Homo sapiens: one gene and its partners. The protein of the gene in region 3 interacts with the protein of the main gene of each other region in a biochemical or structural test. Each region holds a gene or a part of one and is shown on either strand. Other genes may lie near its edges.

Region 1 (3,500 bases), on a different chromosome or scaffold from region 3:
GATTTTATCTAGAGAAGAGTGACCATTCCTTAAACATCTTGTTAACTTTCAGATGGTTTGGGATGGTTCTGAAAACAGCAGTAAGATGAATTACAGGAAGCAGAAATACAAAGTAAAAGAGTGACTAAAACATGAGAATAATCTTGTCCACAGGTTATATGAAACACTTGTAGGATAAACAAATACTGTCAGGTAATAGCTATATTTGGTATAGTTGTGTGGTTTTTAAAAATTGAGTAAATTATATACATGGCATGAGTAAAATTAGTAATAAATGCTGATTTTTAAAAATATCTTTTTTCTTTTAAGTAAGAACAACTGTATTCTTAAAGTAATATATTTTAACTACCTAATTTCCCTGACAACAGCATTATCTTACCCAGTATGCGAAGAGTATACTTTTTGTTCCCATTTGTTTCCAGAAAATGCAATGTGTCTTGTGTTCATTATAACAACATGATCCCCACAGTCACCTACATTTTAAAAAGAAACAAGATTTTGTAAGAAAAATAAAAACCTTAAGAAAAAGTGGCCTTGGTTATTTATAAAGCTTATCAAAGTTCAAACAACATATTAAAAAATAAAAAGCAAGTTACAGTGCAACATCAAAAATCCTTGAATAGATTTCTGTTACTTTTTAATATAACATCTAAGTATAGAAAGAGTTGGCTGGCCATTTGGAAAATCTCAACACTGCAAAGTAAAAGAAATTTAATAAGGTTGCCAATAACAACAATACATCTTTTAAAGGCAAATTACTGTTATTCTTGTGACTTTTCCCATTAATAATTACACTTCAGTAAAAATGTTTGTATTAAGTGCCTTTAAATGTCTGATACAAAATTTCCCTGAAAAATAGCCAAGAAAATGAAAACAGTATGTATATAGATATAAAAAAGTATGTTTTACCTACAGGTAAATTGAAAACATATGTAAAACATTACAATTATTATTTTTTGCAAATTTAGGGAACAGACTGCTTTGATCTTATTAACTACCATGGAAAGGTTTCTTTCCAACCATGTTTATAGTAAATTTAAACTGCTACTCTCAACTATGACTACGTAAATATATTTGACAGGACAGATGACCTGAAAATCAAAATATGTGTATCTGCTTCATTTTCTATCCCTAAGTTTGGCTGTTCATCTAAAAACAAACTAAAAAGTTAACATGTACATTTTCAAATAACTGACTATACATAACAAAATCAAGTAATTAGAAACATTTATAAAATACCTATTTTACTAATAGAAAAAACAAACCAAGATATTCTAGAAGCTCAAGAAAAAAGTACTAAAAATAAGAAATACAAGTACAATATATATGAAAACTAAAGATTATAAGATTCTATGCAGAGCCCTAAATTTGAGTGGCAGAATTTTCACAGACGTTCATAGTCTATATAGGATAAGAATAAAGAAAAGAAGATAATGCAAGTGGGTTTTCATCACTAGAGTGAAAGGAAATTCAGAGGTATGAATGAAAGACCTGGGAAGCTTGCTGTTATTAGATGGAAAAGAATAGTCTGACAATGTTTAATTAAATGGTTGAAGTTCCTAAAAGTGACACCCTGTTGGCTACTGAGGCAGTTGGGCGAATGCAGCAGAACAGCAAATAAAGAAGGTGGGAAGATAACCAGACAACCTCAAAAAACACTGAAATTACTTTAGCTCACATTCAGACATTTACAGCAGAAGAAGATTAAGTGATTTGCAGAGGCTCACACGCTAAGTTACCTAACACCCGGTGTAGGCTCTTTCCATAACATCTATTTGGAGGAAAAAATGGAATCTTTAAACTTTCCATTAAAACTGAATTTATTTTTAAATTGTTAAGTTTTAAATATAGGTAAAGCATCTCGAGCCACTCAAAAAATATCTACAGAGAGCAAAAAAGATCTTCCAAGGGGCATTAGACAGATTGCCACAAAGCAACTGAAAATCATATTCTTTCAGTTCTAAGGTATCACATCTAATCTGGGAAAAATTGTTCTTCCTCAATAATATATGCCAAATCTCTAGTAAATTCATTCTAAGAAGCATTTCTCTACTAACTCTAAACAAAAACTAACCAGCAATTAAATACATGCTTTTAACTGTATTTCATTAACACTAAAGTCAGTATTACTGTAAGACTGTAACCCTGGATATAGCACAGTTGTTTCTGTCTAAATTTCTATTAAGTTAAATACATATAGTTTCATTTTATAATTTTTAATTTAAAACTGCACATTTAATATATATGTACCAAATGTAAATAAATCATAGCTCTAGTGCTTGATCAAGAGATGTTCTGAAGAGAAATTAAGTTGAAAAATAGTAAGCAATTTTTAGAAATAGGAATTGTGAGTTTATTTACAAAAATTCTAACCTTAAACTTCTAACTTTATCTGACTCCTCAGTATAATACTAGGTGCTCAATTAAATGGCCAAATAAATTCAAACTAATTCAGACAAAGTGAAAACTCAACAGCTTCATGTCAGGAAACCTAAGGTCTCAGATAGGTTACACCATCAGGGGCAGCTCTTAGTCCTACACCGCCTCAATGTTTTGGCCCACCTTCTCCCTTAAGCCAGAATGAAGTCATAATTTTTCCTCAAAATTGCCTGGGAGGAAAGGAAGTAATAATTATTCAACATCTTCTACATGCAAAGCACTGAGCTAGGCATTTTATACTCACTTTTAACACTTAAAGTCTCACAACTATCTTATTAGGTAAAGCTAACGTACTCCCTCTGCCTGCTACCACTTTTACTATTTAATAATGTTTACGGAGAAAACAGAGTCAGAGGTTCAACTCAGCTAAAATTATATGGCTAATAAGTGGTAAAGTTAAGTTTCAAATACAACTCCAGTAAAACTTCAAAGGCAGATCTTACCATTTCTACCACAACCAGATGGCAAAAAGTGGTAGTTAAAATGCCATAAGGAGACAATGATATCATTCACTAATTGATCACGTATTCTTTTCTGCTAAATTCTAAGATCTCAGAAGTCCTTCTCAGCAAACTGCTCACAGGTTACAGTTATTTGCCATCTTTGTACTTCCCCATGTACCAGCTCCTTGATTAGGGATTCAAGGAGACCTAGAGTATAGGATAACTTTTTGTAGCCTTATTTACCAGTTTTTCCAACACTACTGTCTGGGCCAGGTAAGCCATGCTATTTAGGTTGGTGCAAAACTATTTGCAGTTTTTGCCACTGAAATGGCAAACTCTACTTTGTTCTAGCATTTGTATAATTTTTTTGGTCCTAGATCCTTGCTGCAGACTCTTAATTATAGATCCCTCACATAGAGTTATCAGACACAATAAGTGTTTACAAAAATCCCTAGTGTTCATTTTTAACTATGTTTGAGATACTCAGATTCCATGCAAGGGCAGATTCAGATAGAGACACCAATTCAGCTTGCTGAGAGTCTCCAGCTCTTTTAAAATTTGCTTTATAATCCTTTTCCATTGATGAACAAATCCACTTGCTATGTATTACATACTTAC
Region 2 (3,500 bases), on a different chromosome or scaffold from region 3:
AAAACCAAAACCACACAACATAGATAACAGACATTCCAAAGTTCTTATAAAATGTAAAAAGAAATATTAGCCATTAGCTCAAACTAAACCTATCATTAAATCACGTTCAATAGGGAGGAGGGAGATAAACCACAGAGAAAAATCCAAAAGACTAGTAAGAAGGCTTAAAGAACAGATTGCTTGTAGAGTTAGCTTTAGTAGGATGGAATTTTATATCCATTTTTACTTCTCAGATTTGATTCCTCCTTGGCTTTACCCACAAGAAACTGAGCCAGCTTTCCTACACATCACTGTAACCCAAGTTAACAACATCAACTCACCACACATATGTTGCCAAACTTGTCTGCCCCAGCCACAGTGTCATAGTCCAGGAGGCTGGCTGTAGTGACCCATCGGGGGTAGGTATCATCAGCAAAGATGATAAGCTGGTTTTCATTACGCTTGTAGCGAACCCAGATGAAACTTTCTTGGACATCAGATACAATTACCCTATGTCCGATAGTCTGGATCCCAGAGATATAATTGGCAATATGCTGGGAAAAACAAAGACAATAGTGATGGTGGGTGTAATCTTGGGGTTCAGAACCCAAAGAAAGCCCAGCTTTCCGTATGACATACGTAGGGTCAGCAGAACAGCAAATACCAAAAACCAGCAGTTAGCAATGAATTCTAGGTGGGAAAAAAGAGCCAAATAGCTTTTAATATAGTGCAAATATATGCCTAACTCTCACATTTACTTTCCTTATAGAAGCTAGCAAGATAGAAAGCTGGTTCTTGTTTGGTAAGTCAAGAAATGAGATCCCTCTACTCCTGCTCCTCTCAAAACTCAAGGGCCGGTGCGGTGGCTCACGCCTGTAAACCCAGGACTTTGGGAGGCTAAGGCGGGTAGATCATGAGATCAGGAGTTAAGAGACTAGCCTGGCCAACATGGTAAAACCCTGTCTCTACTAAAGATACAAAAAATTTGCCAGGCGTGGTGGCGCGCATCTGTAATCCCAGCTACTTGGGAGGCTGAGGCAGGAGAATCGCTTGAACCCAGGAGGCGGAGGTTGCAGTGAGCCGAGATTGCGCCACTGCACTCCAGCCTGGGCAACAGGGCGAGACTCCGTCTCAAAAACCAAAAAACAAAAAAACAAGGGCATAATTCTGAAGCTGGAATTGGGGTAACACAACAAGTCCTAATAAAGATAAGATTTTAAAACTCAATGCCCACCACCCCACCAATGCCCCCACCCTTGACACATGAGCTAGATCTCAGCACCAATGCCAGCACACTTACCTTATTCTCACATTTTCGGAGTAACTTCTTCTTTCCCAGGTCATAGACACGCAACAGCTTCCCCACACCAATCAACACCCTCCCCTGGAATGGGGCAATAGCAGCAGGGACCTCTTCCACAGGAGTCTATAGAGGAAAAGCAGGTAATACAGCTATTATAAATGCCAGCCAGACACAGGCCTCACCTCTCTGCCCAGAAATGCCTACTTCCACAGGAGCCTATCATTAAGAAACACACCAGTGAGCTTATTTTGCTAATGAATCTGGGTGTTGGGGTGAACAAGTTCCGCATGCTGCATTCACTCAGTAGAGGGATCAATGCTGTAACTGACAAGAAGTTCTGGTACCAGACGACTGCTGTCCAGAGCTTGTGCTCTGTTTAACTGGTGTTATTTCAACAGTGAAGCCTTAGTAGCCAAGTGACTGTAATTTGTGGAGGGACAGGAAAGAAATGCTAGTGAAAAGTGACTTTTTTTTTTTTTTTTGAGACAGGGTCTCACTACTGCTCAGGCTGAAGGGCTGTGGCAGGCGCAATCATGGCTCACTATAGCCTGGACTTCCTGGGCTCAGGTGATCCTCCCACCTCAGACTCCCGAGTAGCTGGGACTACAGGCATGTGCCATCAAGCCTGACTAATTATCTGTATTTTTCGTAGAAACTGAGTTTCACCACATTGCCCAGGCTGGTCTCAAACTCTTGGGCTCAAGTGACCTGCTCGACTCAGACTCCCAAAATGCTGGGATTACAAGCGTGAGCCACTGCACCCAGCCTAGTGACATCTCAGTTGTAAAGGAGAGACAAATTTAATATGCAAAAGGGTCTATGAAGTATTTCTTAGAGGATACTCCCCTTATGGTAGGGTTGAAGGAATCCACATGCTGTCATTGTGGAGAAGAGAATATTCTTTTTATTTTAAAAATTATGGTAAAATAGTCATAACATAAAGTTTACCATCTTAATCCTTTTCTTTTTTTTGAGACAGAGTCTCGCTCTGTCACCCACGCTGGAGTGCAGTGGCGCAATCTCGGCTCACTGCAACCTCTGCCTCCTGGGTTCAAGTGATTCTCCTGCCTTAGCCTCTGGAATAGCTAGGGTTACAGGCGCCCACCACCATGCTTGGCTGATTTTTTATTTTTAATAGAGATGGGATTTCACCACGTTGACCAGACTGGTTTTGAACTCCTGAGCTCAGGTGACCCGCCCACCTCGGCCTTCCAAAGTGCTGGGATTACAGGCGTGAGACACCATGCCCAGCCAGTCATTTTTAAGTATACACTTCAGTGGCATTAAGCACATTTACTGTTGTGTAACTATCACCTCCAGAATTTTTTTCATCTTCCCAAACTGAAACTCTGTACCCATTAAACAGTAACTTCCCAGAGAATGCAGGTGGAAAAGAATATTAAATCTTTTTTTTTTTTTTGACAGTCTCACTCTTGTCACCCAGGCTAGAGTGCAATGGCGCAATCTCGGCTCACTGCAACCTCCGCCTCCCGGGTTCAAGCGATTCTCCTGTCTTAGCCTCCCGAGCAGCTGGGATTACAGGTGCGTGCCGCCATGCCTGGCTGATTTTTGTATTTTTAGTAGAGACAGGCTTTCACCATGTTGGCCGGGCTGGTCTCGAACTCCTGACCTCAGGTGATCTGCCTGCCTCGGCCTCCCAAAGTGCTGGGATTACAGGCATGAGCCACTGCGCCCAGCCAGAATATTAATTATTTAAACTGCTGAATTTTGGTCACAAATTGTTGCCTGCTTATTAAAACAGTAAGAAAGAGACCAATTGAATGTGCATCTATCTCCCCATTATGGATGGTTAGCACAAAGCCTTCCTGTGGAATGCACAGGCACAAGAACATCACTGCAGCTAGAAGGCCCCAGCATTTTCCATGTGCTGGTAAGAGAGAGATTGGAATCAAGGAGCTGGTCCCCAAAAGACCTGATCCATAACATAAGCAAAAGTGAGAGAATTCAATGGGACTTAAAATCTAGGAGAACCACTGGCAGATTCCTACCTTGTGCAAAAACTCCAGTTTTTCCCCATTGTTCACAAGCTTGTAAGTATAGACGAAGCCCCCTGCCACAGATCGGGGGTTTAGTATCAGGTCCTTGGCCACACCCACCAGCACATACCAGTCTTCACCAGTGTTGGAAAACCTGCACACAGCCACACTACACACAGAATAAGAAGCAAGAGTAAGGCCTTAGTCAAAACTCAGAGAGC
Region 3 (3,500 bases):
ATGCCATCCATGAGGCCAGCCGTGCCTCCCAGCTCGTTGACGTGGAGAAGGAGTATCGGTCGGTCCTGGATGACCTCACGTGAGTGCAGCCCATCTTCTTCCTTTCAAAGTGGTGGTAAAACATGACAGGGATATTCAGGTAATGGAAAGCTCTAGTATTCCAGAAGTTTAGGAGATGTGTAGAACCTTTTATTTGGAGGACAGAGTCAATAAGGGCAGTCCTCAACCTCATCTTTGAGTCCCAGCCCTTCCCCTTAGGAGTGGCATTGTACATGGTAGTTAGAGTCTCTGTCCAGCTCGTGAAAGCCAGTTGCATGCATAATGTCCAGAAGAGAAGGGCTGTTCACCAGCATGTGCACAAAGTGATCTCAGGAGAGGTGCACCTAAATTCAGGTGTTTCCTATTCGAGATGCCAGGAATACATTGCGCCCCCTTCACATTTTTCTCTGTGCGGTAGCTTCTTTCTAGCTTACTGTCCCCAAACTTAGTGTTCAGTCCTTGGGCAATTTTTCAGATTTGCATTTTTAGAAATAATAAAGACTCCCCGGTTTTCTTTTCTTCCATCCTTGTTCTGACTCTGGAAATGGAGATTTTATTTGTGTCTTAGAGAGGGAGAAGACTTGAGCTGTTTTGAGCATAGCACGTTAATGGGGAAGAAGGGGAGGCTGTAGACCTGAGCAAGGGTAGGAGGTGAGGACAGGAGAGGGGAAGTGGGAGGGGTTGAGCTCACTTATCATTGCTGCTTGGCCCCCGTTGGGCAGTGTTCTGGGCAGTGTCAGGTAAGCAAGAAAGAAGGCGAGGGCTGAACGGGATGGAGGATGGAGCAGTGTCACAGAGGATAGCTGGGGAGGGTGGAGTGTGGCGCTGTCATGAATGTGGTTGTTGGTACTTCAAAGACATGTTTTCTGCTAACCATTCCCTGGTGTGTTCTTTTGGCCTCCTCAGGAGCAGGTGCTCGTTCATGGTTATAGTCTGAGTGTTGAGGACCTCAACTCTTTGTAATGATACTTTTACATTTGATCTTGGAAATGTGTCCTCTTTCTCCAGAGGTGACAGAGGAGAGTTGTGGGGTCTCCATGCAGAGTGATGCTAGATGGCTGGTGGCATGTGGTGTCTCAGCCAGTAATACGCATTGTTTATCCTGTAATCCACAGAGGATACAAACAGCAAATTACACAATCATCAAGAAGATTGAATTTGTGTTTTGAAAATTGGAAGCTACAATTCTATGGTGTCTATTTTAGGAGTAATTTATTTTAAATTGATTTGTTTTCTTTGCACCACAAAGTTTAGTGCTGTAGTAAGTGAATCTTCCATTTATGTAGAAGAAAAATATTGTCGCAGATGTGTGATTTATATAAAAAAATGTTTAAGCATATTTAGGATGCTTCCAGACTTTGGAAGGCTTCCGTAACGGGCTTAAAAAACCCATGTATGCATTTTTTCATGTAAAAGGACAACTTATTGCACATTGTTCTAGCATAGTGTGTTGAATAAAGTAGGCACTTAAATAATGCTTGTAGAATGACTGAAGCAGCTTACAAATGGGAATGAGCTGATCTAAATCAGCTAGATAAAAGAAAACACTAGCAGTCATCTTAAACCTCTAATGATCCTACAAGTTTTATTTGTGGCCAATAAGGGTATGTATTCTGGTTTAGTTTCCTTTATCTTTTAGTTAATAAGAAGTAAAAGGGACATGTTTTTAGCATTTTTCTCTTTATATTATGCTATAAAAATGTTATCAGAGTGCAAAATAGACAATTTATCTTATTTTTCAGGTCATGTACGACATCCCTAAGGCAAATCAATAAAATTATTGAACAGCTTAGCCCTCAAGCTGCCACCAGCAGAGACATCAACAGGAAACTAGATTCTGTAAAACGACAGAAGTATAATAAGGTGATTCAGAATAACATTCAGTATTGCATTTTTGAAAAAGTCATCATTTAGGGGCACTTAATTTAGGAAGTATTTTAAAAAGTGCTTATAAGATGTGAAGCAAATACTTATAATTACAATAGAGAAATTTTGGGTTTCTTTTGTATGTTTAATCTTTCTGCTGTTTTCCTTTAACATCCCATTCTATTGCATTTAAAAAAACACACATACATAGACACACACATCCATACGTATACAGTTGCTCCTTGATTTACAACAGGGTTACATCCCGACAAACCCATCGTAAATTGAAAATATTGTTAGTCAAAAATGCATTAAATACACTGAAAAACCTATCTTAAAGTCAAAATATTGTAAGTCAAACCATAGTTAAGTCCAGAGGCTCCTCAGTTTATAATGGGGTTATGCCCTGATAAACCCATCACAAAGTTGAAAAATTGCAAGTCAGACCATGATAAGTTGGAGACCATCTGTGTATTTGAGAAAAGTTCCTTTTTGGTGTTGCTTGCCTCACTTGGGCGCACTTCCTTAGTTTTCCTGCATCACCATTTCTTTGGCCTGGCTTAGGGTCACACTGGCCTCAGTCTCCTGGTCTCCTGTGAACTCTTTTCTGCTTAGCCCTTGCTTCCTCTAATTGTCTCCACTCTGTTTCTTGGTGGTGCAGCCATTGACCCTCACACACCTTTGCTGACAGTTGCGAGAGCTTGGCCCTTCCTCCCACCTTGGGTGTTACAGTCAGCACCCAGCCACACTGGGGTTGTACTTAGCTTTGGAAAACTTAAGGGTAGGGAATATTTGTTACTTAGGATATTATTTTTATGAAGTTTGAAACTTTTTTTAAGGATTTATGTACAGCTTTGTGAGGTCTGAAACATTTTTTATGATTTATGTACCCCTTTGTGAAAATACATTGCAATAGATAGGAATGACTAGCTGTAACCATTTCAGTTCTGCCATCCCAACTTGTGCTTACAGTTGATTCACTGCAGTGAGTAGAGTCCTTGCATCTTTTCTTTAAGCTCTCCAGGGGCAGGGCTGTGCGTTGGTTCAGTTCACGTGGCCCTCCTTTTATTATACTTTCCACTCACCAGTCTGTTACCTGCACTACCCCATCTTCTCTCACTTGCTTCCAGAATAGCAGCCCAAAGGTCAAAGCTAGCAGTTGCCCAAGGCAGGTGGGTCCTCCCAAATCAGAGAGAGGACATCTGGTCTCTTGTGGGAGCATGTGAAATTGATGTGCAGAGACCTTCTTGGGCTTCTAGTGGGCTGGAATTTCAAGGGTGTAGAGCATCAAACTTGAGACCACTTCAGGTCCTAGTCTAACTTAATTATGCATTCTTGTCTTTAGCAGCTCTTTGATGGTTAGAGGTAGACTATTCAGAGGGAAAGTGCTTTAGACAGAATGTTGCTGAGAGAAAAACTGAGAAAAAACAAATTGCAAGTCATTGCAGTGTGGCATTTATGTTCAGGATTTCCCCTTGTCCCACACTCGTATTTGAAGTTGAAACATTCTTGACCTTGGAAAGATGAACCAGGTACCACAAGCCCAGTTCATTGGGCCTCCCCAGTGAAGCCCAAGGGCACATATCTGAGTTCTG
Region 4 (3,500 bases), on a different chromosome or scaffold from region 3:
TGGTCATGTACTCAATGCATACTTAAACATCACTCAATAAAATTTTCACAATTAACAAAAAAATGTGACAAGGCTGTCTTAAAACGGCTCTGCTATAAATTGTATAGAATATACAGAATTACAAAGTCAAGTATTTTTTTATCAAAATATACACCCCTCCCTGAAACTAACACAAGCTATCAACATTTTAAATGAATACAATTATAGAAAATATTTGCAAAATTATTTTTTCATGTATAAATATTCTGCCATATTTACTTTGGTCTAGAATTATCAGCATACAAGTCCACTTAAAAAATATCCACATATAAGGGCTGGGAGAGAGACATCACTACAGGTAATTTTATATTTGGGGTTAACTCAAATCAAAATGACTAGAATATACAGTAAATGTCTTTGATTAATATTATTAACTGATAAAACAAATTAGTGGATCATAGGATTGCTTATTCAATATTCTAATTATCAATTCAAAAATGATTTTCGTAAGCCCTTTGTGACTATCTCTTTAATAAAACCCAAATGAATAGTGTAGGGTGTACATATATACAATGTATAAAATAAAGTTGAATTTGCTTGCATTTTCCCATTTTTCTCTACTTATATAATACTGTATGTAAGTGAAAGTAGATGAACAAAAGATAAATGCAGATACAATAGTGGGGTTACTTAACAGCAAGGTACTACAGTATTAAAAGGTCAACTTTAATCATGTCCTTTCCTGGGCGTTTAAATGCTTTCTTACCCACCCAAATCCATACTAAGTCTTCTTCATGGAGACATCACACTTGTAGACAGAAACCGGAGTCCTTTGAGCTACTTCTTCACAATGATAACCTTCCAATCTTCGATAACCTTGGGTTTCCATCTGTCAAATCCAATGAACATGAATGACTGCAGGTCACGCTGAAACTGCATTCCGGATTCTGTTCACACTGGTGATCAAAGGGTAGAAATGTTTTCTCTCTCCCTTCTATTCTGGCAGTTTGAAAAAGAATCATGAGTTCCGGCTTTCCAGGAACCTAGTCCACATGATAGAATATGCTGTAGGGCAATTAGATTTGAGGGTAGTGTTGATGGTGTGGGTCAAAGAACATAAAAAAAAAACTTCAGTGGGTTTTTAGCAAGGGGTCTAGATGTCTGCAAATATGAAGACAGAGCATCTGGCTTTGTAGATATATTTCTGAGTCTCATAAGTAAAGGATAGAACCATGTCACTCCACATCCTACCTTCCCACCCCCTAAAAACAAAGCTACTGTTTTAGGCAAGGAAGGCCATCACTTCTTCTTGCCCACTCAAGTCATTAATGGGTGGGGTGGAGGGTGGGGGTTCCTTTGTCCTTTTGCTTTATACTAGTCTGTACTTGTGGGCTGCATAATCTCCAACAAGGCTAGTAATTGTAGGGATTAGGCAGTCACTTTCAAGTGCCTGGGAATTCACTACTGCAGTGTACCTTGCACTAAATCTCTTGGACAGTCCTTCAGTGGAATGGGAGATGGCAGGTTCCACTTGAGCCCTTAAGTCTGTCTGGAATAGACCCCCACATCCATGGCCTTGTGGTGGTTGGAAGACTGCAGAGAGTTTCAGAACAATGTGACCCTCTTTCATTCTCTGAGATGAGGCCATTGCAAAGTAATATGCAGCACAGGTAATCACAGGTAAATTCTGGGAGGGTGTTCCCCCATAGATAAGGCATGACCTATGTTTTCTGTGAATTGAGTAGACCAGTTCTAAGAACAGCTCAGCCATAACTTCAAGGGAACAGCATTCCATCTAAAAGCATTCACATGCTCTTAAATCATATTCAAAATGCTTTCTATTGATTTTTACATCAGTCCTCATTATTTGCAGATCTATTGCTCCTCATAATTCTCTACAGGGGATATGGACAGTTAAAAGTTATAGTGATTTATATATGTATTTTACAAGGTTTGTGTTGCAGAAAAGTAGTTCTACATAATGTATGAATGTCCTACTTTAGGTTACTCATTATGCACATAATTTCAGTTATATTGTTTAAGTATTTCATGTGTATCCATTAATTTAAACAAATTTTAATAGTGCAGAAGCCAGATGGGAATAAAGACCGTCACACAGCTTATTACCACGTAACATATTTACGAAGATGCCATCTTCAGGATATCTGACCCTTATTTTCTCCAGTGACTAAAGACAGTTCAGCAGCCAGTTCTTATTAGCAATTATTAGAAAGTTTTAAACTAGGCTAAAATTAAACTCCTTTTTTCACTGGTAGAAATACCACAGCTAAGAATTTTATTAACTTTCACAAGAAACTTGGGATATTGGAGGAGTCAGCTATTTTGTTTTTGTGCACTTTGCATAAAGTTAATGCTAAAACCCAAAGTAGATATTAGGATCCTTTTTCTGGAATTTTCACAAATGAGTTTTTTTTTTTTTTAATTTCACTCCTTCATGACTGTCACATGGACAAAATGAAACTAAACTTAAATCATAACTAAAAAAACCACCAACTATATTTTTGAAGATTTTTCTAATTCTTGCCACTCAAAGGACAACATTTTCCACACCGGTTTGTATGTTATCCTTTTGGTCATTGTCTTCTGAACCAATGAAATGTTGATTCTCCAAGGGATTTGAGTTTTCGTGGCACACGTCACCTATTTTCTCCTGCTGACTTGGGCTTTTGAATAAGTGTTTCTTTTGGTGCATTCCAAGGGCAGCAGCTGTTTTGCAAATTTTGGGGCACTGGAAGCAGGCATAGCCCTTCCCATTATGCTCCCGAATATGCCTCTGCTCGTGATTCCTTTTGGTGGAGAGATACAAAAATCTCTGAAAGCAGAACTGACAGTGGTAACGCTTTTCTCCAGTATGGATTCTTTCATGGATTTTGAGGGTCTCATTCAAGGTGAATGCCTTGTTGCAATACTGACAGACGAACTCCTTCAAGCCCAGGTGGATGCGTTCATGTTTCTGTAAGTTTCCTTGCACCGAAAAGCACCGTCCGCAGGTCTTGCACTGGTATGGCTTCTCCCCGGTGTGACATCTCATGTGCATTTTGAGTGTGGAAGGGCTCTGGAACTGCTTGGCGCAGAGCTCGCAGGCATATGGCCGAGAAGTAAGATGTCGGTGGGGCCTTCCTTGGTTTCCAGCCCCCACTGCTTTGTCTCCATCACAGAGTTCACACTGCAGCTTGGGCATCTCTTTAGTTTCTTCTTCCTCAAAGGGTTTATCCTGAGGAGCCTTCCCCACGGCGCAATCCAGTTCTGCTGGGTATTTACATTTATGGCTCGGGCTCCTGTTTCCGTGCTCCTTCCTCCAGTTGACTTTCCTCATTTTTTTCAACTGTCTGGATTTCTTTTTGGGTTTGTAGTTGTAGTAAGGGCGCCACGGTTTGTCAGTGGAATCCTGGTCACTTGCGTCATCGAACACTTCACTCATCTCCATGCACTCGGATTGGCAAAGCCCGAGTGGGCTGTCTCCACTGGGTTCTGGGTCATTCCCCTGTGGCAAAGGCTCC

Evidence for each region. The genes of interacting proteins can lie anywhere in the genome.
Region 1: the proteins of ERCC6 (region 3) and MRPL13 form a complex in vitro, tested with the Homo sapiens proteins (one large-scale study listed by BioGRID).
Region 2: the proteins of ERCC6 (region 3) and SF3B3 form a complex in vitro, tested with the Homo sapiens proteins (one large-scale study listed by BioGRID).
Region 4: the proteins of ERCC6 (region 3) and ZBTB38 form a complex in vitro, tested with the Homo sapiens proteins (one large-scale study listed by BioGRID).

Annotation. Positions count from the first base shown.
Region 1 is NC_000008.11:120,431,651-120,435,150, forward strand, and holds part of MRPL13 (large ribosomal subunit protein uL13m), read right to left. Parts: intron 474-3,500; coding exon 380-473; intron 1-379.
Region 2 is NC_000016.10:70,565,316-70,568,815, reverse strand, and holds part of SF3B3 (splicing factor 3B subunit 3), read right to left. Parts: intron 3,449-3,500; coding exon 3,292-3,448; intron 1,406-3,291; coding exon 1,280-1,405; intron 534-1,279; coding exon 321-533; intron 1-320. UniProt on the Homo sapiens protein: Component of the 17S U2 SnRNP complex of the spliceosome, a large ribonucleoprotein complex that removes introns from transcribed pre-mRNAs.
Region 3 is NC_000010.11:49,529,122-49,532,621, reverse strand, and holds part of ERCC6 (DNA excision repair protein ERCC-6), read left to right. Parts: coding exon 1-79; intron 80-1,781; coding exon 1,782-1,902; intron 1,903-3,500. UniProt on the Homo sapiens protein: Involved in repair of DNA damage following UV irradiation, acting either in the absence of ERCC6 or synergistically with ERCC6. Involved in the regulation of gene expression.
Region 4 is NC_000003.12:141,445,004-141,448,503, reverse strand, and holds part of ZBTB38 (zinc finger and BTB domain-containing protein 38), read right to left. Parts: coding exon 2,528-3,500; 3' UTR 1-2,527. UniProt on the Homo sapiens protein: Transcriptional regulator with bimodal DNA-binding specificity. Binds with a higher affinity to methylated CpG dinucleotides in the consensus sequence 5'-CGCG-3' but can also bind to E-box elements (5'-CACGTG-3').